Homo sapiens: one gene and its partners. The protein of the gene in region 1 purifies or fractionates together with the protein of each later gene. This does not show direct contact. Each region holds a gene or a part of one and is shown on either strand. Other genes may lie near its edges. The genes, in order: SRFBP1, ZCRB1, PPP3CB, SCAF1, ZC3H4, RSRC2 and FARS2.

Region 1 (4,626 bases):
TGAGTTTGGACGTCTCTTTCTAAAAGCTTAGTTCTCCACACAACTGAAGAGGGAGTGGTCCTAGTGAACCATGTAATGAGGATGTTTATTTAGTCTCTAATGAAAATGACTCAATCATGTTTAAAAATCAGTGGGAAACAAATGCATTAAAAGGAAGAGAATGACAATGCTATGGTAAAGGGATAATCCATAGTAGAGGTTCTAGGAAGGCAGAAGAGAATGGGCTCTAAAAGACAGTTAAAAGATAAACTCAGATATGTGTAGTGGTATTTCTTATATTGTAACTTTATTCGTAAAGGAAGATGGGTCATGGAAGTACATTTGCATTCATGGTAGTAGAAAAATGATGGTTCCCAACTGATAATTATTTTCTCCACACGATTGAAAGAGAGAAAGGAGGACGGAGACTAGAGGATTTAGGAGAGTAGGCAAAAGCTTAAAACAGGCATTGTAGAGTGAACTGAACAGAAAAATACAGGATGGCTAGGAAGAATGGGGGTCCACTTGAGGTTAATTATGATGAATTTATAGTAGACAGAATGTTACAAGTATTTGCTGTTGGCATATGACAATGAAGAACTCAGAGTGTTTTTTTCATTCAGGACTACGGTTTCCTCACCAGAGGGGCAGGAGTTTAAGAAATTGGCAGATGTTATCATGTATCTAAACTGCATAAAAAGAGGAACATTAAGTGTAGGAGTCAGTGGATTGGTGGTCCTAATGAAGTCAAAGATGGTTGTGGTGGGTGGAGTTGAACAAGCAAGCTGATAGAGGTTGTGATCACAGTGTGGAATATTTGAATTAATGGTTTTAGAAATTGAATATTATGAGTGATGACAAGGTTGACAGTGTGGCCATGGAAGTGGATGGCTGAGATAGAATAGATTAGGTCTTTAGAAAATAAGTAAAGAAGTGAAGATATAATTATCAGATGGGCTATTCAAGTGGACATGCAAGTTACACAGAATGATGGCAGAACTTAGGGTGTAAAGAAATTGTAAGTTGGTTGCTAATATCTTCAGTGAATAAGGGAGTGAATGACATGAAGGGTAAGAGAAGATATTAATTAAATGGAAGAGCCTTAAAGAAACAGGATGATGTTGATAATGTTATTTTGGCAAGAAGAATTTGAGGAATTTTTTGTGCCAGGCACTCTTGCAGGGCAAAGAAAACACTATATAAATATTACAAGACTCCTGTTTTCTAGGAGCTTGCTGTCTATAGAAAAAGACAGCCACATGAGCCATTAGTAACAGTGCAGTGAGGTAGATGCTTTAATGACAGAATCTGTATAGTGGGGACCCCAGGGATGGAGTGGTTATCCTTAACTGAAGAAGTCATTGAAGGTATCACTGGAATGACTATATCTGAACCTGAATTTTATATAGTTCCTAAAGTGAAGAAGGGGAAGAAGGACATTCCAGGAGTAATTTTTAAGATGTATGCCTCGTAACTGATAGATGAAATATAAACTCCGTAATTACATGCCATTGCACTGAAAGCTGTTATAATGTGTATTTTTTTTATAACTATAATTTCCATTTTTTGGCCTATAGCTCTGCTTTTTGTTCTTAGAGTTAAACATTGTTCTCCAGTAGGGTGATTTAAATTATGTATTTGTATGTGTGTGCATGTGTGTGTGGGGGGGGGGCATGTATGTTTACATGCACATATGCTTGCACACAATGCCCTTGTGTTTGTGGATCTTCTTTTAAAATTATACTTGAAATAATTTGTTACTAAAAATAATGAAAGATTTGTTTTATAAATATGTAAAATAAATTGCTAATTAAAAGCTAATTTGCTAATTAAAATAGTCATTCAACAAATTAAATTCCTACCATTATGAGTGAGGCTTTGTTTTAACGGTGGGAATACAAAGATGAATATGACAGGCTGTGATTTCAGGGAACTCACTGTTTATTATATTCCAAGCCCAGCAAGATATAAGTGTAACATTAAAATACTTATCTCGGGTAATACTGTGACTTTTTAAAAAATTATAACTTGTTTTTCTTAAGCTCTCAGACACATTTTTAGACTGTTGATTTATTCCTTCACTATTTATGGAAGAGGTTTGATTTCATCAAGCTACGAATATAGTTAGACAATAAAAGTAGTTAAAGTGGTAGACTAAGTCTCAAATATTAAGACTCAAAATAAAGTGTGTTTGTTCCTGAAGTAAGTGCCTTTCTTCTAATTATTGCTTTATTCTTCAAAGGTTGTGAAGATGAGAAAAGAAGTGAAGAGAATTCGAGTTTTAGTTATCCGAAAACTTGTCAGGAGTGTTGGCCGACTGAAGTCAAAAAAGTTAGTCATTTAAAGTAATGATCTTGTGACTAATAAAATGTCAAAAGTTGTTTTTATTTGATACTTTAAAATGTTTAGGGTGGGATATAGAGAAGTAATTAAATGTCTTATACACCATTTTTGTTTTGTATGCGGAGATGATGTGAGTGAGATAGAATGTGCTGTGTCAGCATGCCCTTCTATGGTTTGGACCATCATTGCTCAAGATACAGGATGAATTTTTTTGCTGCTTTTGCAAAACTCTCTTTTGGTCTTTTTAGAATGAAATTCCCTTGGGCTTGTGTGTTTTGTGTTATCAGAAGTTATTTTAAGATACTGATACAGCTTAACAAATCTAGTAATACCTTAAGAATCAGTTTTGAAGATTTTATATCACATTTTTTCTTGAATTGCTAAGTAATTTGAAATCTTCAGTACCTTATGAAAGTGTTTATTAGAACATTGTGTTCCATGTAATTTTTTGGAAAAATACAATATTTTGTATTTTCAGTATCACTAGTGTTAGTGAAAAAGTATTTTATTTATAGTTCTTTTTATGATGTAAGCATGAATACTTAGTCTTCAAGTATGTTTTGTTCCTGATTAATTTCCTATTCTTTCATAAATATGTCAGAATATAGCCCTTCTTTATTTTTTCCTTAAATGCCAGAGAGCAAATTTTCATTTGATAAAATTATAGTCAAACTCTAATTGTAAATTATGACATTTATATTACATTAAATACAATGTACGATTGATTGATTTAAAAAAGTGTTATTAAGGAACTAGAGAAGGCAAACTATCAAAAGTAATAGTCATTAATACAATGGCAAGACAGTACTTATTTTTGCCATTTTCCAACATATGGGTTTGGTTAGTAAATTGAGGTGTGTTTTGGGAGTGGGGGAAATGGACAGTGTAGGATAGTGGCGTGTTTGTTATTTAGAGATTTATTACGCTTTTCTAAAAAGAAATGAAGTGATTATCCATTACACTATAAGTCTAAAATTAATGCTTTGCCTGGCTACATATCGTAATGTATTTTTTGCAGGGGTACTGAAGATGCACTGTTAAAAAACCAAAGACGGGCGCAAAGATTGCTTGAAGAAATCCATGCCATGAAGGTAAGGACTTGTGTGGGTGTGTATGTGTGTATGTTTCTGAGTATCCTGTTATCCTGCATTTTGTTTGTGTGTGGTATTGCTTATTTGAATATTCCCGAGAGTTGCGTAAGACATCTTGTATCAGTCTGTTTGGTGAAGAATGTAGCACATTTAGAAAATTGTAACATTTAAGCTTGCATTTTTCTGTTTTTGACTGAATTTGTTAAAGTGCTAGGCTAATTTGAGTCAAAATTGTGCCAAACTAAATTCATCTATGTTTAATAATGCCTCCTGCCTCAGGTTTTTATTTTTACTGTAACTTTAGCACGAAGTCAGTTCAAGAATTAAAGTCTTCATGCTATTTGGGAATGTGGATGGTGATATTGGTGGCTGACATCATGCTTTCCTTGTTGCCAGCTCAATAAATTTTTATGTATTGGTATCGGCATTTTATTCAGTTCTGTAGTAACTTCAAATAAAATTAGTGTTAGACCAATGTGATCCCATATTTTTGTTTTTTTTTTCAGTCAGACTCTTCACTAGCATAATTTTTAGGTCTTCTTGCTGCTCTTACTTTGAGGAAACTTTCATTTACCAAATGACATGACATTAAATGTCTGGGAGACTGTTTTACTGTAGAACTTAAAAACAACATTTGGTCCCAGCAATTTTCTTAATTGCAGGGTCATTTTGCATGCATGTTTGCCTATTATATTTTGGTATAACTTTCAAGTTTTGAATTAAGTAAAAGAGAAATAAAACTCTCTAACTATTTTAATTGAGTTAAGTTATCAAAGATTCTCAGCCTTTCTTCCTTTTAAACGGATAGTAAAGTGTTTAATAGGACAAAGTTATCCCAGTTAATCTGAATAAAAACATCTAGGAAACGACTCTTTGATATGAAGTATATTTGTTTCTTGTGTTCTTCCTTCCCTCTGCTGCACACTATTATAAAATTCATGGAATCCATCTGATATAACTTTTATTTCTCAAGGTTATAATTCCCTTTTTATTCAGTCCTTCAGGAAAAAAAAGTCTTCTGTATTTGACTGTCAGTGATCATTTGTGTCTCTGTGGTTTGCAGATTATTTAGTTTTTTCATATACCTTTTTAAAATGATATTCCTATGAGAAATAAAATCTTTAGAGATTTTGTCTTGAGAATAGCAATAAAATAGGAAGTTACAATTTATCTCTTTCACTTTCTCTTAACCAAGGTTCTTACTAAATTACAT
Region 2 (3,380 bases), on another chromosome or scaffold:
ATCCTAGCATTTTGGGATGCTGAGGTGGACGGATCACTTGAGGTCTGGAGTTCAAAAGCAGACTGACCAACATAGTGAAACTGAGTTTCTACTAAAAATACAAAAAAAAAATTAGCCAGGCATGGTGGCAGGTGCCTGTAATCCCAGCTACTTGGAAGGCTGAGGCAGGAGACTCGCTTGAACCCAGGAGGTGGAGGTTGCAGTGAGCCGAGATTACTCCACTGCACTCCAGCCTGGGCAACAGAGGGAGACTCTGTCTCAAAAATAAAAATAAACATAAAATAAAATACTTAAAAAACAGAGTCCAGAGGTAGTAATGGGGAACTGGGGAGAGAATCACTGAAAGATACCGTCCTGGCTACAAAATCACATGGAAGATGCAAGGAAATGGCTTGAGGTCCTCTACCCCACTGTCACTCCCCATACCCCCGACAAAAAAGATAACTAAATAAACAGACTGATGGATGGATGAATAGAAAGAGTGAGCAAGCAGTTGCTTGGATACATACTGATTCTGTCAATTCCTATGATTCTAAAACCTCTTAAGTAAACACTTTAGAAACTTTTCCAAAGTTTTGAGTTTTGTAAAAGAAAGAAAGGGAGGGAGGGAAGGTAGTTATATTCAGATTAGTATATATCTTCATATTCACAGTAAATATTAAATTATCTGAGAAATCCTAGATGAATCTGTTAATCGGTTCCTTTTGGTTTATGGATCCATAGAGTTGTTATATTTTTTACATTTTTATATTTAATTTCCCTCCCTCCAAAAAAAACTTTTTTATATTGACCTAGCCTGGTTTTTCTCAAGTTATTTCATTAAATCCTTTTTTAGTATGGGATATGTTAATTTTTTTTTGCTATAATATTATTCCAAAACAGTTTCAGATATGTGTCTCTATTTTCTCAGCAGCTCATTAACAGTAAGTAACCTCTTTAAGTTGGGCTATGTCCTAGGTATACAAAGTGCACAGTCTGTCTGCTCTGTCAAATATACTGGAAAAGCATGATTATTGTTCCCTTCTATTGTTCTAACCTTGGCTCAGTCCCCACACCCTACCCTGACATAACCTCTTAAATGGAATTGTAGTGAGCTGATGTCCAGATTATAGTTGAGCTCTTATGTTTTACAAATCAATGTTCTAGCTAAGTAGGAATAATAGCCTAGTCCAGCATTGTCAAATGAGAATATAATGCAAGCCACGTATGTTACTAAGTCTTCAGAAATCCAATGTGTATTTTACCTTTACAGTACGTATCAATTCAGACAAGTTCTCAGTAGCCACATTGGCTGGCTAGTGACTACTGTAATTGGATAGTGCAAGTGTAGTCAGGATATAAAAGGGAAAAAACGGAAGTAATTCATAGGAAAAGTGAGGAAGAAATTTTCCATTTGTTTTTTGGTTTTTTGTTTGTTTTTTGAGACAGGGTCTTGCTCTGTTGCCTAGGCTGGAGTGCGGTGGCACAATCTCAGCTCACTGCAGTCTCTGCCTCCCGCGTTCGATCAATTCTTGTGCCTCAGTCTCCTGAGTAGCTGGGATTACAGGCATATGCCACCAAGCCCAGCTAATTTTTGTATATTTAGTAGAGACAGGGTTTCCCCATGTTGGCCAGGCGGGTCTTGAACTCACTTCCTAAGGTGACCCACCTGCCTCAGCCTGCCCAGCCCAACAGAGTATTAAGCAACATCTTGGAAATTAACAGGAATAGTTTTATCCTCGTTTTATCAATAACTTAAGATGTTTACATTTAGGGTAAATGATCCATTTAAATTTTGATTTTTTTTTTTTGAGACGGAGTTTTGCTCTTGTCACCCAGGCTGGAGTGCAACGGAATGATCTCAGCTCACTGCAACCTCCACCTCCTGGGTTTAAGCAATTCTCCTACCTCAGCCTCCTGAGTAGCTGGGACTACAGGTGTGTGCCACTTATGCCCAACTAATTTTTTTTTTTTTTTTTTTTTTTTTTTTTTTTTTAGTAGAGACGGGATTTCACCATTTTGGTTAGTCTGGTCTCAAACTCCAGACCTCAGGTGATCCACCCACCTCGGCTTCCCAAAGTGCTAGGATTACAGGCGTGAGCCACCGCGCCCGACCAAACTGTTTTATATCTTGAATTTTGAGATTTAAATGTTTGAAAGAAGACTACTACCACTACTCTTAGTAAAACTACTAAATAGTCCTAAATGTTAAAATAACTGAGAGTTATAATATCACCTTCTAAATATTAAAGTACTGGGTTTTATCATTAATGTCTTCTGTATAGTCCCAGTATGGGAATATTCCTTTTTAAATTTGAAAACTTTTTAGTAATAAGGTACCAGGCAAGTTTTTATAAATAACATCAAATATGGTATTTTTCCTTTCCTTTTTAATGGGAAACAAAAGGAAAGTGGACACTTAAGTTATGCCTGTCCGAAAAATATGCTCGGAGAACGTGAGCCTCCAAAGAAGAAAGAAAAAAAGAAAAAAAAGAAAGCTCCTGAACCAGAAGAAGAAATGTATGTATATTATTCTTACTAAATACATCATCATGTTGCTTTTGTCTTTTGGTTGGTTGCTTTTGATTATTGGTTGGTTACATTCCAATTTGTTTTTCTTTATTTAAGTGAGGAAGTAGAAGAAAGTGAAGATGAAGGGGAGGATCCTGCTCTTGACAGCCTCAGTCAGGCCATAGCATTCCAGGTATTAAATTGTTCTTTTAAAAGGCATCATACAATAGTTGACTTGGTTTATAGTGCTTGCTTACTTCATTGATCACCTCATGGCAACCTCTCTTTTTCCCCCTAACCTCCTAAGCCTTAGGAGACAAGCTGTTTCTCTGAGGTACTTAGCCAGTGTGAATGAAAAGTTCCCATTGGTTCTTCCTAGATTTTAAGGGCCCCACAACACTTACTATCTTAATCTTTTTTCATTAAAGAAATGAGCAGAACTATTTGCTCAAAGTGAATATAGCCCAACAGAAAAGATTTTTTTAAGAAATTGCCTAGGATAATTTTGTGTAAGATTTTGAGATGAGACAGAACTCAGGGGAAGGGAGCAGATCTTATTGTCTGCATGGACTGGGAGGGTGGGAAGTAATGGCATTTGTGGTATGTTTTTGCCATGTTTTGAATTAATGAACCATAAATAATATTAAACAGGTTATTGGTTTTGTTTTGTTTTTTGAATCACAGCAAGCCAAAATTGAAGAAGAACAAAAAAAATGGAAACCCAGTTCAGGAGTCCCCTCAACATCAGATGATTCAAGACGCCCAAGGATAAAGAAAAGCACATATTTCAGTGATGAGGAAGAACTTAGTGATTAAAATCTTGCCCCAGCACAGTAATAAAAATCAAGATTTGTTAGTAACAATCTTGAAGAGCTAATTTTAATAAAAAT
Region 3 (4,626 bases), on another chromosome or scaffold:
CCGCAAGTTGTCAGTTCAAAGGAGGTAGTGATGACTCTGGACTGGAATGGTCTAGGAAGGGCTTGTGTAGAAGCAAAGGGGCCTTGAAGGATGGTTAGGATTAAAATAGAGGATTGGGACCATTTATTTGTGCAGTGTTTATTGAGTACCAGCTTTGTACCAGGCATTGTGCTAGGCATTGATGATACAGAAGTGAATAGGATATTAAGTAAGATAGATTCTCTTGTAGTGCCGGCATTCTAGTGGGGGAGACACTATTATAAATAAATAATGTAATGAATTTGGTACAAAGCGCTACTGGAGCTGTAAAGAAGGGATTGGCTATCTTACTTTGAGGGAAAGCGTCACTGAGAGGATAATGTTTCGAGGTAGTCCTTGAAGGATGAGTAGAATTTCACCAGAAAGTGGGGCTAGAGTAGGTGTAACAGAAGCAGAAAGGCATGGAGTTTGAAAAAAGCATGAAATGTATGGCAAAAGTATGTGAAGTGCTTGGCAAGGAGTGACAGGAATGAAGTTAGAAAAGATCTTTTGTATTACAAGTTGAGGAGCTAAAACTTAAGCTGTTAAGCAGTATAGCAGTATATAGTACCTGGATGATTAAAAGCACAAGCTCTGGAGTCAGACTGCCTGGGTTTGAATCCTAGCTCTACTACTTAATAACCTTCTTGCCATGGACAAGATACTTAACATCTCCAAGCCTTAATTTTCTTATCTGTAAAGTAGAGCTAATAAAATCTTATTATAGGGTTTTTGGAGAATTAATAGAGACCGTGCATATAAAGTAGGTACCACAGTTCCTGGCCTGGCACATGGTAAGTACTCAACCAATGGTAACCATCACCATTATTATTATTATTATTATTATTGAAGGTTTTAAAGTAGAATAGTGACCCAGTATCTTGTTTTTTGATGGCTAATTCTGGCCATATTGTGTGCAACAAATTATTGGAGGGCAAGAAGCTTAAAGCAGGTTGTCTAATTAGAAGATTAATGGAGTAGTCCAAGTGAGGGATGACCAAGGCATGAAAAACTAGATACGACACAAATTCCTACTAATATTAGAAGGTAAGTATATTGGATGAGTGATTGAGTATGGAAGTGAAATAGGTGAGCAACAGTTTTTTAGGAAACAATAATCAGAATAATTTTGCTTTAGGGCTAGATTAAATTGGGCAATTGTAGTTAGATGCAAAGATTGGAATGATATGTAAAAGACTGAGAATGGTTAAATTGAGAAGAACCTTGAAAATAAGATCCAAAGTTTTCTTTTTCTTTATTCTTTAGTCATTAAGAAACTACCCCAAGTTTTTGAGTAGGTTAATTTACTACTTTGTTCAGTCAAAGAGGAAGAAGAGATTTTTCTAGTAAATGATAAGAACTTGAACTAGTATTGCAACAGTGGAGATTTAAGAAAATTGAATTTGAAGAATCAATAGGACTTAGAGTTCAGAAAGAGAACAATGACATTAAGTGTGAGTGATAGAGAATGGTGATACCTTAACAGGTGTAAGCCAGGAAGGGGAGCCAATTTTGAGGGAAAGGTATATTTAAAAACCACCACAAATTAAAAGAGACCCAATGGATACCTTGAAATTTTGAAGACAATGCTGTTGGATTTATTGAATCTTTCCTTAAAGCATGTGGCCAATCCATACTTCTACTCCTGGCAAGCAAATGGTTATATCATTCTTCATGATGAGGCTTTTTTTTTTTTTTTTTTTTAACCCTCAAGACAGGATCTTGCTCTGTCACCCAGGCTGTAGTGCAGCGCCATGATCATAGCTCACTGCAGGTTCAAACTTCTGGGCTCAAGCGATCCCCCAACTCAGCCTCCCAAGTAGCTGGGACTACAGGCACACACCACCATGCCTGGCTAATTTTGTTTATTTTTTATGGAGACAGAGGTCTCACTATGTTGCCCAGATTGGTCTCAAATTCCTGGGCTCCAGTGACTGTCCTGCCTTGGCCTCCCAAAGTGCTGCAGTTACAGGTGTGAGCCACCACGCCCAGCCATGATCAGCCTTTTGATGTCTCCTTTTGTCAAAAGAAAATTGTCCTTGTGTTGGTATAAAGACATATGCTACAGGAGCAGCATTCTGAAGACTTCAATTTCAACTATGGCTCTACTTCTTACTAGTGAAACCCCTGGAGAAGCAACTTAATGTCTCTGAACCTGTTATCTATCATTTGTGAAATGGGAGATAAAACTTGCCTGACCCTAACCCCAGCACTTTGGGAGGTGGAGGCGGGCGGATCACTTGAGGTCATATGTTCGAGACCAGCCTGGCCAACATGGTGAAACCCCGTCTCTATTAAAAATATACTAATTAGCCGGGTGTGATGGTGGGCGCCTGTAATCCCAGCTACTCGAGAGGCTGAGGTAGGGAGAATCGCTTGAACCTGGGAGGCAGGGGTTGCCATGAGCTGAGATCTCACCATTGCACTCCAACTGGGGCAACAGAGCGAGACTCTGTGGAAAAAAAAAAAACAAAAACTTGCCTGACCAAACTCAAAGGATGTCCCTGGGAATCATGTAGGATTATGTATGTGAAAGTACTTGGTCAACTATGAATAAAACACTATAAATATATTGTCATTGCTACATAAATTAGTGTCGTTAAACAAGTATTTTGGAAACTATAATCATTAATTCTGTAAACATTTCTTAATACCTATGTTTTTCCTGTTTGTTTTTTTTTTTTTTTTTTTTGGTTTTGGTTTTTTTTTGAGATGGAGTCTCACTCTGTTGCCCTGGCTGGAGTACAGTGGCATGATCTCGGCTCACTGCAACCTCTGCCTCCCAGGTTCAAGCAACTCTCCTGCCTCAGCCTCCCAAGTAGCTGGGATTATAGGCATCTGCCACCACGCCCCGCTAATTTTTGTATTTTTAGTAGAGACGGGATTTCGCCATGTTGGCCAGGCTGTTCTCAAACTCCTGACCTCAAGCGATATACCCACCTTGACCTCCCAAAGTACTGGGATTACAGGCATGAGCCACTGCACCTGGCCAGTTCTTAAGTTTTAGATAGGTTTTGATAATGGTGGAACTTAGAATGGATAAGACTTGTGGGCCAGAAACTTGAGCCTATGATGACTAGTTTTCTTTTGAGAGAAAGTCTCACTCTCGCCCAGGCGGGAGTACAGTGGCCCAATCCCGGCTTACTACAACCTCTGCTTCCAAGGTTCAAGCAATTCTCGTGCCTCAGCCTCCCCAGTAGTTAGGATTATAGGAGCCCGACACCATGCCCAGCTAATTTTTGTATTTTTAGTACAGATGGGTTTCACCATGTTGGCCAGGCTGGTCTGAAACTCCTGACCTCAGGTAATCCACCCGCCTTGGCCTCCCAAAATGCTAGGATTACAGATTTAAGCCACGGCACCCAGCCTATGATTAGTTTAATAGATAGCAGGGACAAGGGTAAACTAGCCAGAAGGCATGAATCTCAAAGGAGGAGGCATTTTTTTTCCCTTAGTGGAGAGATGATGTTGGAAGTGCTAATGCGGAGCTAAGAGAATGCTGAAGCCTCCACTGAGATTAGTGGAATGCGGAAAAATGAGCACCATCCACTTTGAAAAAAGAATTTGATAAGTGTTGTCCTTCAGGAGACCCAAGATGTAATTAAACTAGAGAGATGAAGACAGTATTCTGTGTAGAGCTAAAGAAGAGAGAGGCCAAGCGCGGTGGCTCACGCCTGTAATCCCAGCACTTTGGGAGGCTGAGGTGGGTGGATCACCTGAGGTCAGGAGTTCAAGACCAGCCTGACCAACATGGAGAAACCCAGTCTCTACTAAAAATACAAAATTAGCCAGGCGTGGTGGTGCATGCCTGTAATCCCAGCTACTTGGGAGGCTGAGGCAGGAGAATCACTTGAACCTGGGAGGCAGACGTTGCGGTGAGCTGAGATTGCACCATCGCACGCCAGCCTGGGCAACAAGAGCAAAACTCCGTCTCAGAAGAAAAAAAAAAAAAAAAAAAAAACCAGTCTGGCCAACATAGTGAAACCCCATCTCTACTAAAACTACAAAAAATTGGCTGGGCGTGGTGGCTCACGCCTGTAATCCCAGCACTTTGGAAGGCCGAGGCAGGCGGATCACGAGGTTAAGGGTTCGAGTCCAGCCTGGCCAACATGGTGAAACCCCGTCTCTACTAAAAATACAAAGATTAGCCGGGCATGGTGGTGCACGCCTGTAATCCCAGCTGCTCAGGAGGCTGAGGCAGGAGAATCGCTTGAACCTGGGAGGCAGAGGTTGCAGTGAGCTCATGTTGCGCCACTGCATTCTAGCCTGGGCAACAGAGCAAGACTGCATCTGAAAAAAAAAAATACACACACACACACACACACACACACACACACACACACACACAATTAGCCAGGTGTGGTGGTGTGTGCCTGTAGTCTCAGCTACTTGGGAGGCTGAGGCAGGAGAATTGCTTGAACCTGGGAGGTGGGGGTTTCAGTGAGCTGAGATCCTGCCACTGCATTCCAGCCCCGGCGACGATGCGAGACTCTGCCAAGAAAACAACAAAAAAAGAGATTGTGTGTAGGGTTTGTGGGATAGATTAAAACAAAATCTTATAATAGGAATTCTGAAGGCCTCAATGAAAAGGATGGAGGGAGAACAGCA
Region 4 (4,593 bases), on another chromosome or scaffold:
CAACAGCCACCCACTCTCCCTCACCTCCGACCAGTACAAGGCCTACCTGCAGGACTTGGTGGAGGGCATGGATTTCCAGGGCCCTGGGGAGAGCTGAGCCCTCGCTCCTCATGGTGTGCCTCCAACCCCCCTGTTCCCCACCACCTCAACCAATAAACTGGTTCCTGCTATGATCACTTGTGCGTGTCTGGTGTTGGGTGCCCTCTGACCCAATATGGTTGTTATTCCCGCTCAGGGTCTCAGTTTACCCATCTGTGCAGCTATATACAACTCAGGTGCTCAATGCATGAAGACCAAGCACTGCAGGGGGCAGCTGACACCTCCTCACTTCTGCCCAGGGACCTGGTGGGTGATGGCTGTCCCCGTGTTGTAGACCAAGACACAGGCTGGGAGAGGCGCAAAGGTCACAGAGTAGGAAACACAAAGACTAGCCAGAACCCAGGCCCCCTGCCTTGCCTATGAACAGTTTGGGCAAGTGGTCCTTCTCCTTCCAGGCCTCAGGCTCCCCTCCACGTGGGGCTGGAGGGGTCTTGGTAAAGGGGCTCTGCGGCCACCCTGGAGCCTGCAAAGCCTGCCTGCCTGGTGACCCTGGGCACTGTCACCTCTCCTGGTTGGGCCGCAGTTCTGGGTGATGAAACTGGCAGAAGCCAGCGCAGCCCTGACTCACCCTTCGGCCCTTGCTGCTCTGTGCCTCAGTTTCCCTCTCAGGACAGTTGATGAGATCACCCCAGCTTCACGGGGCTGCTGAAAAGAGAAGCCAACTCAATGGGGAACACAGATCCTGCTCTGGGAGCAATTCCAAGGCAGGCACATGGCACCCAGGAGCCGAGCTGGGAAGATGCTGATCAGGTGGGGTCCGGCCCCTGCCTCCCTGTGAGCAGCTCGCTCCCAGCCAGAGACTGTGCTAAGTGCTCCACCTGTGTCTTGTTCAATCATCACAACACCCACTACACAGATAAGAAAACTGAGGCCCAGGGGAGGCAGCTGCCCCAAGTCACAGTCTGGTCTCTGTCTCCCATCCTCAGCCTCCTGGGGGTCCCTCCCCAACCCTCTGGCAAATTTGTCTCCGAAAACAAAGGGTTAGAACCATGGGGCTCAGGGGTAATGTTTCATGAAATCTTTAATGAAATTGGGGAGAGGGGCACAAACAGAAGGGAGGGGCACTGGGGACAGGCTTGGGGGCAAGGGAGGTGGACACGGGGCAGGGCAGGGCAGGGGGCTCTCCTCTTCCCTGCAGCAACCCTCCCCCAGTCATCCCACTGACGGGGGAGGGAGGTGGGGAGGTGGAGCCATAAATACGTCCAGAGTTTCAAAGAGGTGAGGGGCGAAGAGCTGGCCAGGGCTCTCAGAGAGGGGGCAGGGGCAGGCCCGGGCCACCCTTGTCTGGGGGCCCTGGCTCCTTGGGCGGCCGTGGGGGCCCTGGGGGGTCCCCTGGCTTGCGACCGTGCTTGCGGAAGTAGCGGTAGCGCTGGACGTAGGCCCGCACCAGGTTGCTCACCTTCACTGGGTTGATTTCCCCACTTTTGCTGTGGCAGATCTGGGGGGCCGGGGACAGTTGGAGTCACCACCAGGCTCCCGGGGCCCCATCCACCCAGGACTGTTGGGCGCAGCTTGGAACTGCGGTAGGAGGAGCTTCCCCAATAACCAGGCCAAAGTCCCTCTGTCCCCCTAGACGATGGGTGCCCCAGGGCCAGCGGAACAGGCCCAGGTGGCCTTGAGAAAATCCTGTCACCCTCCTCACCTCCCAGACTGACCTCCTCCCCGTCTCCCATCCGCGTCCATCTGTCTGCACACATCTGTCCCTCCAGCTCGTTCTCTCCCCGGCCTGTGTCTGCCCCTCTCTCCGGGTGCCCACCTTGTGGACGGCCTTCCTCAGGATGTCCTTGTACTCCTCCTTGGTGATGTCCTTCTTCTGATAGTATGGCTTGATGGCCAGCTTCACCTCCTCCACCGCCCGCTCCTGCGTGTGCAGCTTCTTCAGATACTGGTGGGGTGGCGACAGCGGGGGAAGACACAGCAAGGGCCAGTGAGTACCTGCGGAACCTCCACCTCCACTCGCCTCTGCTGCCAGCCTAACCTCTCTGGCCGTCCAGCTGCTCTCAGGCTGGAAGTCCTGCTGAGGGTCTGTCCCATGCGCCCTCTGCTGCAGGTGCCCGGGACCAAAGGCCAGGCCTGGGCCTCTGCATGTCACTGAACATCTCCTCCAGGCCGAACCCTGGGCTGCTCCAGGCCTGGCCGGGACCAGGACATGTGTGTCGCCTGCCCTCACAAAGTTCAGTCTGATGAGAAGACAGGCATTGGCCAAGAAATTGCAGCTGGTTTTGAATCAGACTCTAGAGGCGGGGCTGTAGAAAACTGCACAGGGCTTTTCACCGCGGGAGCGGGGAGGACTCAGTTTAGGTTTTTACAGTACTGCTCTGGTCACCCAGGGGATGGAGGGGGTGGCTAGGGGTGAGGGGCACTGGGGAGTGGGGGTGGGGACTGACCTTGAGCCCATTTGTATCAGAAGCCTGGTCTGCCACTCCCTGTCTCTGACCCCTGGGATGCTCAGCCAAACCTTTTTGTGGCTCCTTTTTTGTTTCTTTGTTTTTGAGACAGGGTCTCTCATTGTCATGCAGGCTGGAGTGCAGTGGCACAATCACTGCTCACTGTACCCCTGGTCTCCTGGGCTAAAGCGATCTTCCCACCTCAGCCTCCTGAATAGCTGGGACTAGATGTGCCACCCCCACGCCTGGCTAATTCTTGTACTTTTTGTGGCGACTAGGTCTCACTATGTTGCCCAAGCTGATCTTGAACTCCTGGGCTCAAGCGATTCACCCGCCTCGGCCTTGCGAAGTGTTGGAATTACAGGCATGAGCCACCGTGCCTGGCCACCTTTGTGGCTCATTTGTAAAACGGGGACAGCACCTATGGGCAGTACTACAGCGACACACATGGAGGACATGGCACAGGCTGGGTACAGAGCAAAGACTCAATCCAGGGGAGCTGTGCCTGTTCCAAGGGGGATGGCCATGGGATGAAAAGGGGAGGACGCAACAGGGACAGGGCAGAGAGCCTCCGAGGCAAGGCTCTTCCCGCCTGTGGCCAGCAAGCTAGGAGATCCCGCAGCCGCAGGCTCGGGGCAGCAGCTGCAGCCCTGGCCTCAGGCAGAATCCTTGCAAAAGCAGACAGGAAACCTCTAGCCAGAGAGCCACGTGGGACCAGAGAAGAACAGGCCTTCTGCAGGCACAAGGGACAGTCCCTTGGCACCACCCTTGGAGAAGCTGCCCTCCCAAGCCAGGTGACTATCAAAGTAGGGGCAGGTAAACTGAGTCCTGGGAAGGGCAGGGCACAATGGCTAGCCGACTCCAGGAGCAACATCAGTGACACTGTCTGACGAGCTACTGAGCTGTTAGGGAACTCTGTGGCCAGAAGAGACACAGGCTGCCCTGGAGGGACTTCTCAGGCTTGCCTGGCCCCACAGGATGTGGGTCTCTAGAGAGACGCTGCTCCCCAACACCCATCTCGGATGGGCAAAGCGGGGCAAAGGGCAGAGCACAGACCAGGGCAGAGCAAGGGCCACTGTAGACCAGGGGGTCCTCACCGTCCGAGTCCTGCAGCGCAAGGCACAAGCTACGGACAAGTGACCGACTAAACTGCAGCCCCGCCTCTGCGGCTCACACAGGATGTTTAATGGGGTTTATACAGCTTTATCTGGCACGGTACACAGCTGTGTAAGGGTGGCCAACGTCACCGTCTGGCTATGGGCTACTAGACTGTAAGAAAACACATCTAGGCTGGGTGCAGTGGCTCATGCCTATAATCCCAGCACTTTGGGAGGCTGAGGTGGGAGAATCACTTGAGCTCAGGAATTTGAGACCAGCCTGGGCAACATAGTGAGACCCCAACTCTACAAAAAATTAAGAAATGAGCTGGGCATGGTGGCGCGTGCCTGTAGTCCTAGCTACACAGGATGCTGACGTAGGAGGATCCCTTGAGCCCGAGAGATCAAGGCTGAGGCTACAGTGAGCTGTGACTGTGCCACTGCATGCCAGCTTGGGTGACAAAGCGAGACCCTGTCTCAAAAACCAACCAACCAAGGCCGGGCACGGTGGCTCACACCTGTAATCCCTGCACTTTGGGAGGCCGAGGCTGGCAGATCACCTGAGGTCAGGAGTCAAGACCAGCCTGGCCAACGTGGTGAAATGCCGTCTCTACTAAAAATACAAAAATTAGCTGGGTGTGGTGGCGGGTGCCTGTCATCCCAGCTACTCGGGAGGCTGAGGTAGGAGAATCACTTGAACCCTGGAGGCGGAGGCTGCAGTGAGCCGAGATGGCACCATTGCACTCCAGACCAGGTGACAGAGCAAGACTCCATCTCAAAGAAAAACAAAAACAAAAACCCACATCTAGACCTGACCAAGAGAGAAACAGCTCCAGAGCCCAGGAGTAGGAGCCGGCCAGAGCAGCTGAGTAAGAACCTACATTACTGTCTGCCTGGCACCCATTCTCCCCTGCTTCATCTACAAACAGGTTCTTGAGTTTTCATTCGGAAACCACCCTCCCCCACTCACAGAGACGGAGACAGCGCGAGCAACAGATAATCAAGGGGTG
Region 5 (4,626 bases), on another chromosome or scaffold:
GTTGCCCAGCTCTCTGAAGTAAAGGAGCTGGGATTTGAACCCAGGCCCTAGCTGACCTCCATGAGGCATGTTCTCGAGCCTCCTCCATGCGGCCTTAGCAAGGCCCTGTATGTCTCAGAGAAAGATGCTGACTGGTCCACGTCACGGCTGACTGGCTTCCACTGTTCACAAATGACCTTTTTGGGAAATTGGCAAGAGAATGAAATGTTCTCAAGTAGCCAGTAGGCAGAGGTTAGATACTCAGCCACTGTCGCTCTCATTTCAAGCAGCAATTTAAATTATTTGTTCAGTTTGTATACCATTTCTTCCCCCAGAAAATCCCATAAGAGAAAAGCAAATCATTTTTTTTTTTTTTTTTTTTTTTTTGAGGCAGAGTCTCACTCTGTCGCCCAGGCTGGAGTACAGTGGTGCAATCTCAGCTCACTGCAAGCTCTGTCTCCTGGGGTCGCACCATTCTTCTGCTTCAGCATCCTGAGTAGCTGGGACTACAGGCACCCGCCACCACTCCCGGCCAAGTTTTTGTGTTTTTAGTAGAGACAGGATTTCACCGTCTTAGCCAGGATGGTCTCCATCTCCTGACCTCGTGATCCGCCTGCCTCGGCCTCTCAAAGTGCTGGGATTACAGGTGTGAGCCACCGCGCCCGGCCGCAAATCATCTTATGATTACTTTACCCAGTATTCGTTGGCACGTGGGTGTCCGGGTTTGGATGAGAAATGTTTTGTCTTGTTTGTTTATTTATTTATTTATTTATTTATTTATTTATTGAGACGGAGTCTTGCTCTGTCGCCTAGGCTGGAGTGCAGTGGGGCAATCTCGGTTCACTGCAACTTCCACCTCTCTGGTTCAAGCGATTCTCCTGTCTCAGCCTCCCGAGTAGCTGGGATTACAGGCATGTGCCACCTTGCCCGGCTGATTTTTGTATTTTTAGTAGAGACAGGGTTTCACGATGTTGGCCAGGCTGGCCTCGAACTCCTGACCTCAGGTGACCCGCCCGCCTTGGCCTCCCACAGTGCTAGGGTTACAGGCGAGAGCCACCGTGCCCGGCTGGTTGAGAAATGTTTTAAAGTTAGTAGGTCTTTAAAGCTGTCCCAGGTATCCCATGACCCAGCATCATCCATCACAACAAATGATTCATTGTCCAATACCATAGTTGAGATTGATCTACTGGTGTAGGTTTGGCCTTCAAACCTGAGGGAGGCAGGAAATGGAGGGAACATTGCGTGCTTTTTATGAACTAGAGCTGGAGGCATTTTAAAGATCTGCTAAAGTACTTGTATGTGTGTCTGTGTGTCTAGCTGTATTTTGCATTGTCCTGTTTTTCTATAATTCGGATTTTTTAAAATTAGTGGGCTTTATTGTTTGTTTGTTTGTTTATTGAGATGGGATCTCACTCTGTTGCCCAGGCTGGAGTGCAGTGGTGTGATCTCACCTCACTGCAGCCTCGAGCTCCCTGGGCTCAGGTGATCTTCCTGCCTCAGCCTCCTAAGTAGCTGGAACCATGGGCCATAACGCCAAGGCTAATTTTTGTACTTTTGGTAGAGATGGGGTTTCAAAATGTTGCCCAGGCTGGTCTCAAATTCCTGGGGTCAAATGATCTGCCCACCTCGGCCTCCCAAAGTGCGGGGATTGCAGACATGAGCCACCATGCGCAGCCGACTTTTTTATGCGTTCATTCATTCATTTATTTAGAGATGGAGTCTCGCTCTGTCGCCCAAGCTGGAGTGCAGTGGCACAATCTCGGCTCACTGCAACCTCCGCCTCCCTGGTTCAAGCGATTCTCCTGCCTCAGCCTCTCAAGTAGCTGGGATTACAGGCGCCCACCACCACACCTGGCAAATTTTTTTTTTTTGTATTTTTAGTAGAGACGGGGTTTCACTATGTTGGCCAGGCTGGTCTCGAACTCCTGACTTTGTGATCTGCCTGCCTTTGCCTCCGAAAGTGCTGGGATTACAGGCGTGAGCTACCACGCTTGGCCCAACTTTTTTTTTTTAATTTTAATTATTTTTTGAGACAGAGTCTCGCTCTGTCGCCCAGGCTGGAGTGCAGTGGCGCAATCTTGCCTCACCGCATCCTCTGCCTCCCGGGTTCAAGTGATTCTCACACCTCAGTCTCCCGAGTAGCTGGGATTAGAGGCGCCCATCACCATGCCCGGCTAATTCATTTTGTATTTTTAGTAGAGACTGGGTTTCACCATGTTGGCCAGGCTGGTCTGGAACTCCTGACCTCAAGAGATCTGCCTGCCTGGGCCTCCCACAGTGCTGGGATTACAGGTGTGAGCTACTGTGCCCGGACTTTATTTTAATTTTTTTGAGTTGTTGTTTCGCTGTGTCACCCTGGTTGGAGTGCAGTGGTGCAGTCTCTGCTCACTACAACCTCTGCCTCGCGGGTTCAAGCAATTCTCCTGCCTCAGCCTCTCAAGTAGCTGGGATTACAGGTGCCTGCCCCACACTCGGCTATTTTGTTGTTGTTGTTGTTGTTGCATTTTTGCATTTTTAGTAGAGATCGCATTTCGCGTCTGCATCTCCTGACCTTGTGATCTGCCCGCCTCGGCCTCCCAAAGTGCTGGGATTACAGGCATGAGCCACCGCGCCCAGCCCCCTGACTTTCTTTTTTAGAGCTGTTTTAAGTTTATTCAAAATTGAGCAGGTAGTAGTAGAGTTCCCTTCTCCCCTCTGCCTGCCCCCTTCCCTGCCTCCAGTTTCCCATTACCAATGTCTTGCATTGTTGTGGTAACTTTGTTAGAATTGATGAGCCGGTATTGATACATTGTTATTACTTAGGGTTGTATAGTTCTCTGGGTTTTGCCCAATACACACTTTATTGTTACATATTCGTCGTTACTCCATTGTCTGGATATACCAGTTTGTTATCCATTTACCTGTTGAAGGATGTCTTGGTTGCTTCCGTTTTTATGAGTATCTTTAACTTCTTCTAGTACCACTTGGCATTACCACACTTTGGAAAGCATCATTTGAGATGGCTGTCCAGCCTGGCTGCCAAGCAGGCCATTTATTGAATTCCAGGGCCCTAGGAAAATTGTGACCAAGCAGCCCCCGCCTGCTTCCCAGGCCCCTCCACGTGCGCTTGCTCTGCATCCTTGGGAAATGCTCCCTTCTTCTCCCCTTTGTTCATCAGGGATCGGGGGTCTGTGGTTCTGTTTTCTTTCTAGTTCTGGCCCTTTATGAAGAACAGAAACACTTGGGCCCGCTGCTACTCCCACTCCCTGGTACGAGAACCAGTCCCCAGAGGGGCTGGAGACCAGCAGTGCAACCCTGGGACAGTAGTGACACCCAGACAGACATGTTCGTTTAGGGAACCCTGGGTATCTTGGTAGTCTGCACCCACGGCTGTGGGATCCGGCTCACCTCTTTTCCCCATCTCTGGGACGCAGTCCCACCAGCAGTACCCCCCATCGCATGCCACGCCCCTGCCCAAGAAGGCATACTCCAAGATGGACAGCAAGAGTTATGGCATGTACGAGGACTACGAGAATGAGCAGTATGGGGAATATGAGGGCGACGAGGAGGAGGACATGGGCAAGGAGGACTATGACGACTTCACCAAAGAGCTGAACCAGTACCGGCGTGCCAAGGAGGGCAGCAGCCGCGGCCGAGGTGAGCCCTGCCCTTACAGTTTCTCCTCTGGGGCATCGGAGCCACCCGGGCCAACCCCGGTGGCCTGGTCTCACAGAACCTCAAGTTTGGTCACTTAGGGTTGGGATAAGTGTACAAAGAAGGGCCAGGCTCTGCATGTGCATGGCACAGGAGACCGGAGAGATCACCCGCTGGGCTGTGGTTGGGGTGGTACCAGGCTGGTGTGAGGCAGGGAGAAGGCCAGCGTGCCCGAAAGGTCACTTCCTGGTCAGCTGTGGGGGGAGAAGGGAACAGCTTCTCTTTCACCTGGGCCATGGTCACTGACAGCTGGCTGCCACACCCCACAGCAGTGCTCCCCCATTCTCCCAGCCCCATCACCTGACAAAGTGTGACTGCAGTCCTTGCCACTGCCACACCTCTGAACCTTGAACCTGTGTCCTTTGGGAGGAAGGTGGAGGAGGCTTGAGCACCAGAGACACGGTAGCCCTGACTGGCCTCTTAGAACACATCTCTGCCGGCGCAGTGGCCCATGCCTGTAATCCCAGCACTTTGGGAGGCCGAGGCTGTCGGATCACCTAAGGTCAGGAGTTCGAGACCAGCCTGACCAACAACAGCAACCAAAAAGAACCATTGAACCATCTCCTGCCAGAAAGACTGCCCAGCCTGAGAATGGCTTCTGGAATCTTCCAGTGCAGGGGTTCTCAGACTTGTGAGCCCTGCCTGAGGCCCAGCTTGTTGAGTAGCTGTTCATTCATTCTTTTTTTTTTTTTTTTTTTTTTTTTTGAGACGGAGTCTTGCTCTGTCGCCAGGCTGGAGTGCAGTGGCGCGATCTCGGCTCACTGCAACCTCTGCTTTCCGGGTTCAAGCAATTCTTCTGCCTCAGCCTCCTGAGTAGCTGGGATTACAGGCACGTGCCACTACACCCAGCTAGTTTTTGTATTTTTAGTAGAGACGGAGTTTCACCATGTTGGTCAGGCTGGTCTCGATCTCGTGACCTCGTGATCTGCCCACCTCGGCCTCCCAAAGTGCTGG
Region 6 (4,626 bases), on another chromosome or scaffold:
TGCCTGTAATCCTAGCACTTTGGGAGGCCAAGGTGGGAAGACTGCTTGAGGCCAGCAGTTCGAGACCAGCTTGGCCAACATGGCAAAACCCGTCTCTATTAAAAAGAAAACAAAAATTAGCTGGGTGTGGTGATGCGCATCAGTAATCCCAGCTTCTTGGGAGGCTGAGGCACGAGAATTGCCTGAACCCAGAAGGCAGAGGTTGCAGTGAGCCAAGATCATGCTCCTGCACTCCAGCCTGGGCAACAGAGCAAGACTCCGTCTCAAAAATAAATAAATAAATAAATAAATAAATAAATAAATAAATAAATAAATAAAATAAAATAAAAATAAAAAATAAAAAAAGTAGGTCACAGATCTGAAATGTATTTCCTAAACAGTTTTAAATCCTGACCTTTAAGCCAAAAAAGAAACCAATATAAAAGGTCTATACATGGTAGTTTCTTAAGAAAAAAATTCTCCAGATTTCAAGGTAGTAAATAATCTCATATTCTGAAATTAAAGAACTACATTTAAAACTTTATCTGAAAGATCACCAAGTAATCTATATATCAATGACATTTTGGATGCTATTAACGGCTTCACTTTTAAAAAAATCCAAAAACACAAACAGAATAGACTTATGGCATTCAAGTAAATAAGAGCTTAAAAAATATTTGTCAGAGTTAATGAAATTACAATCTAGCATATACTAAATCCAATTTTATAGTAAATTATTTCCATACTAGTTTCAGAAAGAAGATACGTGTGACTACAACTGGTTGCATTAAAATGGCCATTGAAGATTTGGAATTAATACCATTCACTAAGGTGAATGGAAAGAAGGGGTGAGCTCACACTTTTGCTGCTGTTCAGCTGCAGTTTCTGTCAGGCTGGGTTCCCAGGGAAGCACATCAGGTTACACTGTGTTACCAGCCTGGGCAACATAGGGAGACCCCGTCTTCTCTACAAAAAATACAAAAATTAGCCAGGCATGCCTGTGGTCCCAACTACTTGAGAGGCTGAGGTGGGAGGATTGCTTGGGCCCAGGAATTCAAGTATGCAGTGAGCCGTCATCATGTGCCACTGCACTCCAGCCTGGGTGGGACCCTGTCTCAAAAAACAAAACACCTTAATTTTGTAACGAGAGAAAAAAAAATCAAAACCTAAAAAGTCTATTTTTCAAAATATGGGAAATACTGCAAACAAGTGCTTGGATTTTATTTTACTTTTTGCCTCTCTATGAGGCAGTTCTTTGAATAGTTTTGCAGATTTCAATATATAGTCGTGCTGTGTGTGGTTTCACCATTACTCATCTTTGAAACAGCAGAAAATTTATTTTTGTGTGTGTGTGTGTGTGTGTTTTTTTTTTTTGAGACTGAGTCTCGCTCTATCGCCCAGGCTGGAGTGCAGTGGTGCGATCTTGGCTTACTGCAACCTCTGCCTCATGGGTTCAAGCGATTCTCGTGCCTCAGCCTCCAGAGTAGCTGGGATTACAGGCGCCTGCCACCACGCCCAGCTAATTTTTGTATTTTTAGTAGAGATGGGGTTTCACCATGTTGGCCAGGCTGGTCTCCCAACTCCTGACCTCAAGTGATCCGCCCGCCTCGGCCTCCCAAAATGCCGGGATTACAGGTGTGACCGATTGCACCCGGCCGAAACAGCAGAAAATTAAAAAAAAAAAAAAAAAGTTCTCCCATAGTTACCAGGAATAAAACTTACAAGATCAAATAAATTAGCTTATAATGTATTATCTGTTAATTGCCATCTTCAAAATAATAATATTGACAAAATTTTACTTACTGTTTCAGGTATTTTGTCTATTTGAGGGAGAAAAACAAAAAGTAAAGGAAAAGTCATCTTAGATGAGAAAATAATAGTTCTTGAACCAGATTTAAGACTCAAAAAAAAAAAGTTTCAAATGCAAACTGAAAATATTTGGGAGTCTAAATTTGAGAAAAATGAAATCAGTTAAATCATGAAGGAAAAAACAGAAATTGTAGACATCTCAATCTTATAGTTGTGCAAATGTTTAGGATGAGAATTAAACTATTTACATAGTTCTAGATCACAAATATGCCACCATATTACTAAAGTATGTGAATCATTCTCTTACTGAAAGAATTCATCTTATCCACACAATTGAGCATTTATTTAAAGGCGAACTGGAACAAATGAATTAAGAAATATACACACCTTCTAGCTAAAGCTTCCTGTGCATCCATTGCTGTGTTTCTGCCTCTGAAGGGAGGTGGACTTGGAGTCCGGCTTAAACTTCTGCTAAATCTTCTCGGCTTTTCAATTCTCTTCTTTCTATCTCTGTAGTAAATCGTATTTCATATGTCAAATTATGGCCAAGTCATAACTATTTTGTTAATAAGAAATCAATTAGTTCAAACAAAAATCCCAACGATACAAAAACATTTAGTTTGAGATGCAAAAGATTTAAAACATCAGTGTTACAGCTGAACTCATTGGAAATAACATTTGTTTCCAACTCCCTCATCCCTTTTTAAGAGACAGGGTCTCACCATGTTGCCCAGGCTGGCCTCCAGTGATCCTCCTGCCTTAGCCTCCAGAGTACACAGGTCTACAAGCATGCCCCACCGCATCTGGCTGTTTCCAATCTTTTGCATAGTATATCCAATGTTGGAAAAGCTAGCCTTATACATTAGTCATTTTGTGCTCTTGTAGGTCAATATGTATACCACAGGAATCATTCCTACATATTTTCATCTACAGTGAATTTGTAGATGTTTTTCAAAAATAAAAAGTTATTAACCACTAAAAATTAGGTCTGGCTGGGTGCTGTGGCTCATGCCTGTAATCCCAGAACTTTGGGAAGCTCAGGCGGACAGATGACCTGAGGTCAGGAGTTCGAGACCTGCCTGGCCAACATGGTGAAACCCCGTCTCTACAAAAACACAAAATTTAGCCGTGCGTGATGCTGGGTGCCTGTAATCCCAGCTACTCGGGAGGCTGAGGCAGGAAAATCGCTTGAACCCAGGAGGCAGAGGTTGCAGTGAGCCAAGATTGTGCCATCGCACTCCAGCCTGGGCGACAGAGTGAGACTCTGTCTCAAAACAAACAAAAAAACTAGATGTCAGTGACCAAAAAAGCACTTAAAAAAAAATTTCTTAATTGGTAAGGTTCAAAGTAGTAAACTACTATAAACTAGAACCACTGAGTAAAAATTCATATTGATTTAAAGATCAAGTGATAAATCATAAAAACCAAGTTACTGTATTAAGTACAGGTCCCTTTTTAAATGTATGTTTCAATCTTTCATACACTGACCTAAGTTGCAATCAATTTACAAAAGTCAGTATACTACTGTCATATGTAAACAAGCAGAGAATAACGCATTCATTGAAGAATATTTATAATTAGTTTTCCTCCTGTGCTCTTTATTGTACACCTCCTATCTCAACAAAGCCTCCTCCCACCAATCAAGATAAATCTAAATTGTGTTCATTTACAAACAAAATCTGAGGTAGTTTGTACAATACAGTGGGTTAAGCACATGCATGGAATTTGCATTTAGATATATCTGAAACCTGCTCCTGGCTCTAGCACTTAATAATGATACTGTTTTGGAATTCTGGGGCAAATTTCTTAAACGTCTTTAAGCACGACACACTTACCTTTCAACATGGTTCTTCTGAGAACTAGATGAGCTAATAACATGCAAGGAGTTCTAGCATACAGCATATGGTAAGTATGCAAAAGGAGATTTTAGTTATTTGTGATAATAAAATTAATACAACAAATCCAGTGTTGAACACAACTGAATTTGTTTGTTACGACAGGATTCACTCCTGTCACCCAGACTGGAGTGCAACAGCATGATCTTGGCTCACTGCAACCTCTGCCTTCTGGGCTCAAGTGATTATCCCACCTCAGCCTCCCAAGTAGCTGGGATCATAGGTGTGGGTCATCACCCCAGGCTAATTTTCATATCTTTTGTAGACATGGGGTTTCACCATATTGCCCAGGCTGGTCTTGAACTCCTGGGCTCAAAAAATCTGCTCGCCTCGTTGTGATTACAGGTGTAAACCACGACACCTAGCCAACAACTGCATTTTAATAGGCCTATTCATACCTGCACTTCGCAAGAGATTTATCAATCACGAGAATACCTGTGAATGCTATTCAAGTGGTTAGGTGTGTTCTTCATACGTTAGGTAATGACTAAAATAATTTTACCATAATCTATAAATAGAATTGTGACTCACAATTTTAATACTCTCTTACTGAGGAAGATAAACAGACTCTCTGAGGGTCCTATTAAATTTTATTCAGGATGATGGTCACCTACCGACTCCTACTCCTTGTCCTACTCCTGCTTCTAGTCCTATGCCTGTGTCTTGATCTTGAGCGGGAACGAGACCTGATCCGCCGTTTTCTTTCCCTGCTTCTGGATCTCGATTTCTTCCTCTCTCTGCTTCTGGATCTCGATTTCTTCCGCTCCCTACTCCTGGATCGAGACTTCTTCCGCTCCCTGCTTCTACTACGATGGCGTCTGAAATTAAAGTGCACAAATTTGTAATTACTTAAAAGTTGTGTTGTTTCATTTATACACATCATGAATTAGTTACTTGTAGTAACGCAATAAAGACAAGCAAGTAACTGCACTATATTATTTAC
Region 7 (4,626 bases), on another chromosome or scaffold:
ATAATATCCTTGCATGAGGAGCCTGGCTATGGATTGATAGGGTCCCCTGATCAGGATCTTACCAGGTTGAAATCAAGGCAGAGGCAGGGCTGTGTACTCTGAAGCTGGGGTGCTATCATCAGCTCACTCCAGCTATTGGGAGAATTTGTTCCGTCCCACTGTAGAAGTGAAGTTCCCATTTTCTCCCTGGCTGCTGGTGCCTCTCTGAGCTCCTTTAGGACTTCTCAAGGGCCCGAGCCATGTGGCCTCTTCACAGCCAGGAGGTGGATCTCTCTCCAATCGGCCAAGATGGAGTCCTAGATAAAAAGTAAAGCAGTCACAGGCTTAAATTCCCATTGTGTTCCTAGATCCCACCCATACTCAACGGGAGGAGTTTACACAAGGCATGTGCATGCGGGGTGGGAGTCTCCGAGGCCATCTCAGCCTACCACAGGATCCTACTCATCTGTTAGTGTCCAGTTGGAATTATATCCTTTCATGAGCTCATTTCATAAGCTTTCCTGCAGTGTGAACTGCTCCTTTGCCTGCCTTCATTCTGCAGTTTCTATCTTCCCTTTTACACTGCCTCAGTTTGTGAAGTAAACCCTTCTAATTTATGGCACTGACACAATCTGAGCAGGACACTGTACCTTTGGAGTAGGTGGTGCTAGTTATACCCCTCGTCTGGGCCTGCTTGTGTTCTCTGCAATGCTGAAGTGGCTGTTGGTAAGAATAAGCATTATGGTGTTTAATAAAACTGAGGTTCTTAAAGGCATGACGTATGTACTTTCTTCATGTAAGTTCGTTCTAAACATGTTATGGCCACTATGGCATGTTTTGAATGTATCTCATTATCTACTACACTTAAGGACAGAGACCGTCTTTTCTTTCCACTCTGTAACCTATATTCAGTGGGCTAAATGTTTGAATCAGAGCAAGCAAAGACTACAGAAAAATCATAACTCAGTTCAGGAACCAGTGCTTCAGAAAGCCTAGAATGTAATCAGAAATGAAAGACAGTACTCCAGACAGTATGACTTCAGAATCCGTTCATGAGGGCAGTCCGGAATATGGAGATGAGAAAGCGTGGAAGATTGGGCACCCTCATGGATGTCTTTGTAGCGGCTGCCCAGTGCCTTTGCCCGCTGGTAGGCATCTAATTAGTGTCACTGATAACTGTCAGGGAGTGGTATGAACCTATCCAATCTCGATACTTTTTAAAAACAACTATTTTGTTTCCTAATCACAGCTGGTGCTCAAGACCGAATCGGCTGGGCTTTTGGCCTAGGATTAGAAAGGCTAGCCATGATCCTCTACGACATCCCTGATATCCGTCTCTTCTGGTGTGAGGACGAGCGCTTCCTGAAGCAGTTCTGTGTATCCAACATTAATCAGAAGGTGAAGTTTCAGGTAAGATGACTTGCAAGAACTGAATAGATAATAATAAAAATGGCTGTCAAGGATCGACAGGATCATGTACTTGAAAGCCACTGAATTTTATTTTATTTATTTTATTTTATTTTCATTTTACTTTAAGTTCTGGGATACATGTGCAGAACGTGCAGGTTTGTTGCATAGGTATACGTGTGCCATGGTGGTTTGCTGTGCCTATCAACCCGTCATCTAGGTTTTAAGCCCCACATGCATTAGGTATTTGTCCTAATGCTCTGCCTCCCCTTGCCTGCCACCCCGCAACAGGCCCCGGTGTGTGATGTTCCCCTCCCTGTGTCCATGTGTTCTCATTGTTCAACTCCAACTTATGAGTGAGAACATGTGGTGTCTGGTTTTCTGTTTCTCTGTTAGTTTGCTGAGAATGATGGTTTCCAGCTTCATCCATGTTTCTGCAAAGGACGTGAACTCATTCTTTTTTATGGCTGCATGAATTTTAAATAATGTGAATTTGTAAAGAAGTTCTGGCCAGGCATGGTGGCTCATGCCTTTAATCTCAGCACTTTGGGAGGCCAAGACGGGTGGATCACCTGAGGTCAAGAGTTCGAGACCAGCCTAGTCAACATGGTGAAACCCTGTCTCTACTAAAAATACAAAAATTAGCTGGGCATGGTGGCACGCACCTGTAGTCCCAGCTACTTGGGAGACTGAGGCAGGAGAATCACTTGAACCCAGGAGGCAGAGGTTGCAGTCAGCTGAGATCGTGCCATTGCACTCCAGCCTGGGCAAAAATAGCGAAACTCTGTCTCAAAAAAAAAGAAGTTCCTAAATAGAGGTCCATAAACACACAAGGGGTTCATAAACCTTCAGAAATTTTATGCAAGAGAAAAGATATTTGTCAATATTATTAGTCTAAGCAGAGAACCAATTTTGTACTTTTTTTTTTTTTTTTTTTTAGACAGAATCTCACTCTGTCGCCTGGGCTGGAGTGCGCGATCTTGGCTCACTGCAACCTGCGCCTCCTGGGTTCAAGCAATTCTCCTGCCTCAGCCTCCTGAGCAGCTGGGATTACAGGCGCCCACCACTACGCCCAGCTAATTTTGTGTATTTTTAGTAGAGACGGGGTTTCACCATGTTGGCCAGGCTGGTCTCAAACTCCTGACCTTGTGATTCGCCCGCCTTGGCCTCCCGAAGTGCTGGGATTACAGGAGTGAGCCACTGCGCCCAGCCCTCATCTAGTATCTTTTCCAACAATTCTACTCCATTCATTTTTCAGAATGAAGCTGCATATATGTTAGACCATTTGATCCTATGCCATAGAACTCTGATGAAAGGTTTTTTTAATTAACGATTTTCTTTTCCTGTGTGCTTTATTTTTGATAATTTTTATTGTCTTCTCTTTGGGTTGCTCATCTTTTTTTTTTTCCTGTTTTGTCCAAGTAACCATTAAGCCCATCCAGTGAATTAATCATTCCCCAGATAACTGTATTTATCAATTCTAGAATTTGCATTTGCTTCCTTTTTAGAGTTTTCATTTATCTACTGAAATGCTTGATTTTTTCATCCATTTCATCCATTCTTCCTTAAATTCTTTCACATATTCATAATGGTTATTTTATTTTATTTTATTTTATTTTATTTATTTATTTTGAGACGGAGACTTGCTCTGTTCCCCAGGCTGGAGTGCAATGGCATGATCTCAGCTCACTGCAACCTCTGCCTCCTGGATTCAAGCAATTCTCCCACCTCAGCCTCCCGAGTAGCTGGGATTACAGGCATACACTGCCATGCCTGGCTAACTTTTGTATTTTTAGTAGATACAGGGTTTCACCATGTTGGCCAGGCTGGTCTCAAACTCCTGACCTCAGGTGATCTGCCCATCTTGGCCTCCCGAAGTGCTGGGATTACAGGTATGAACCACTGCGCCCGGCCTCATAATGGTTATTTTAAAGTACTTGTCTGTTAATTCCAACCATTTGATTATCTAGTGTTCTTTTGTTGTGGTTGTTTTCCCTTCCTAATCATGGCTTACATATTTCCTGCTGCTTCACTTGTCTTTTTGTTTTTTTTTTAATTGTGTTTGAATGGACAAAGACTGAGGTAGATAAAATTTATCCCCAGAAAGTCTTATGCTTTCTACCTTCTGGCTGCTAAGGTGACTAGGCCAGATCTTTTTGTTCTAATCAGGAGTTGAGTTGAATTTCACATCTGCTTTCCTCTTGATGGTGAGATCTAGCCCTGCAGCAGAGTTTGGGATCTAACCATGTGAGATCACAGGATCTCTTTCTGCTTTCCATCCACTTACCAGCTTCTTCCACCACCAGCGTTTGTAAGCAGAAATATTATGAAGGAGAATTGGCTGGCAGTGAGGGTTAGCTCTGTTTCTCCATTTTCCAATCTGCCATGCCAGCCCATGCTTGGCTGACGCAAGTGTGGCTCATTCTTCTTATTCCAACAAAATGTCTTTGCCAGTAGCAGGCTAGCTCTTCTGCCTACTCACGCCCCAGTGGCGACAGCAGCCATCAGTGTCTGTCTACCCTAGAAGGGCTCATCTCTCTCTGGAGTTATACTTATTTATATTTGTGTACAGACCTTTTCAACTGTATTAGTCCATTTTCATGCTGCTGATAAAGATATACCCCAGACTGGGAAGAAAAAGAGGTTTAATTGGACGTACAGTTCCACATGGCTGGGGAGGCCTCAGAATCATGGCGGTGGGCGAAAGGCACTTCTTACATGGCAGCAGCAAGAGAAAATGATGAAGAAGCAAAATCAGAAACCCCTGATAAACCCATCAGATCTTGTGAGACTTAATCACTATCACGAGAATAGCACAGGAAAGACCGGCCCCTGTGATTCCATTACCTCCACCTGAGTTGCTCCCACAACATGTGGGAATTCTGGGAGATACAATTGAAGTTGAGATTTGGGCGGGGACACAGCCAAACCATATCATCAACTTTAAGGACAGGTATGATTTTTATGAGTGTATTTTGTTATTGTTATAGTGAAGCACACTGATTTTGTGTGTGTGCCCATCTGCATCTTGAACCTTTCTATGTATATATGCATATATTTTTGGTTTTACCTTATGAGGACTTTTAAAAACTTCTACTTGAATAATTATCTGTTTTATTTTAGCATCAATTTCCTTGTAGACTAATTTGAAATAAAGCTGTATCTAATTTACAATAAAACCTGGCTAGGGCTGTAACTTTTTCTCATTCTCTTTTTAATATATTGTCAGTTATTTAATCA

What was found.
Region 2: the proteins of SRFBP1 (region 1) and ZCRB1 purify together in Homo sapiens (co-immunoprecipitation; one large-scale study listed by IntAct). This does not show direct contact.
Region 3: the proteins of SRFBP1 (region 1) and PPP3CB purify together in Homo sapiens (co-immunoprecipitation; one large-scale study listed by IntAct). This does not show direct contact.
Region 4: the proteins of SRFBP1 (region 1) and SCAF1 purify together in Homo sapiens (co-immunoprecipitation; one large-scale study listed by IntAct). This does not show direct contact.
Region 5: the proteins of SRFBP1 (region 1) and ZC3H4 purify together in Homo sapiens (co-immunoprecipitation; one large-scale study listed by IntAct). This does not show direct contact.
Region 6: the proteins of SRFBP1 (region 1) and RSRC2 purify together in Homo sapiens (co-immunoprecipitation; one large-scale study listed by IntAct). This does not show direct contact.
Region 7: the proteins of SRFBP1 (region 1) and FARS2 purify together in Homo sapiens (co-immunoprecipitation; one large-scale study listed by IntAct). This does not show direct contact.

The regions. Positions count from the first base shown.
Region 1 is NC_000005.10:121,971,975-121,976,600, forward strand, and holds part of SRFBP1 (serum response factor-binding protein 1), read left to right. Parts: intron 1-2,221; coding exon 2,222-2,310; intron 2,311-3,340; coding exon 3,341-3,413; intron 3,414-4,626. UniProt on the Homo sapiens protein: May be involved in regulating transcriptional activation of cardiac genes during the aging process. May play a role in biosynthesis and/or processing of SLC2A4 in adipose cells.
Region 2 is NC_000012.12:42,312,993-42,316,372, reverse strand, and holds part of ZCRB1 (zinc finger CCHC-type and RNA-binding motif-containing protein 1), read left to right. Parts: intron 1-2,386; coding exon 2,387-2,499; intron 2,500-2,607; coding exon 2,608-2,683; intron 2,684-3,174; coding exon 3,175-3,306; 3' UTR 3,307-3,380.
Region 3 is NC_000010.11:73,485,649-73,490,274, reverse strand, and holds part of PPP3CB (serine/threonine-protein phosphatase 2B catalytic subunit beta isoform), read left to right. Parts: intron 1-4,626. UniProt on the Homo sapiens protein: Calcium-dependent, calmodulin-stimulated protein phosphatase which plays an essential role in the transduction of intracellular Ca(2+)-mediated signals.
Region 4 is NC_000019.10:49,655,152-49,659,744, reverse strand, and holds the end of SCAF1 (splicing factor, arginine/serine-rich 19), read right to left. Parts: intron 1,985-4,593; coding exon 1,856-1,984; intron 1,538-1,855; coding exon 1,346-1,537; 3' UTR 1,103-1,345; downstream 1-1,102. Other genes in the region: IRF3 (interferon regulatory factor 3), read left to right, coding at 1-156.
Region 5 is NC_000019.10:47,088,956-47,093,581, reverse strand, and holds part of ZC3H4 (zinc finger CCCH domain-containing protein 4), read left to right. Parts: intron 1-3,392; coding exon 3,393-3,615; intron 3,616-4,626. UniProt on the Homo sapiens protein: RNA-binding protein that suppresses transcription of long non-coding RNAs (lncRNAs). LncRNAs are defined as transcripts more than 200 nucleotides that are not translated into protein.
Region 6 is NC_000012.12:122,512,930-122,517,555, forward strand, and holds part of RSRC2 (arginine/serine-rich coiled-coil protein 2), read right to left. Parts: intron 4,502-4,626; coding exon 4,298-4,501; intron 2,299-4,297; coding exon 2,176-2,298; intron 1,800-2,175; coding exon of another isoform or gene 1,787-1,799; exon of another isoform or gene 1,783-1,786; intron 946-1,782; exon of another isoform or gene 838-945; intron 1-837.
Region 7 is NC_000006.12:5,543,952-5,548,577, forward strand, and holds part of FARS2 (phenylalanine--tRNA ligase, mitochondrial), read left to right. Parts: intron 1-1,228; coding exon 1,229-1,389; intron 1,390-4,626. UniProt on the Homo sapiens protein: Is responsible for the charging of tRNA(Phe) with phenylalanine in mitochondrial translation.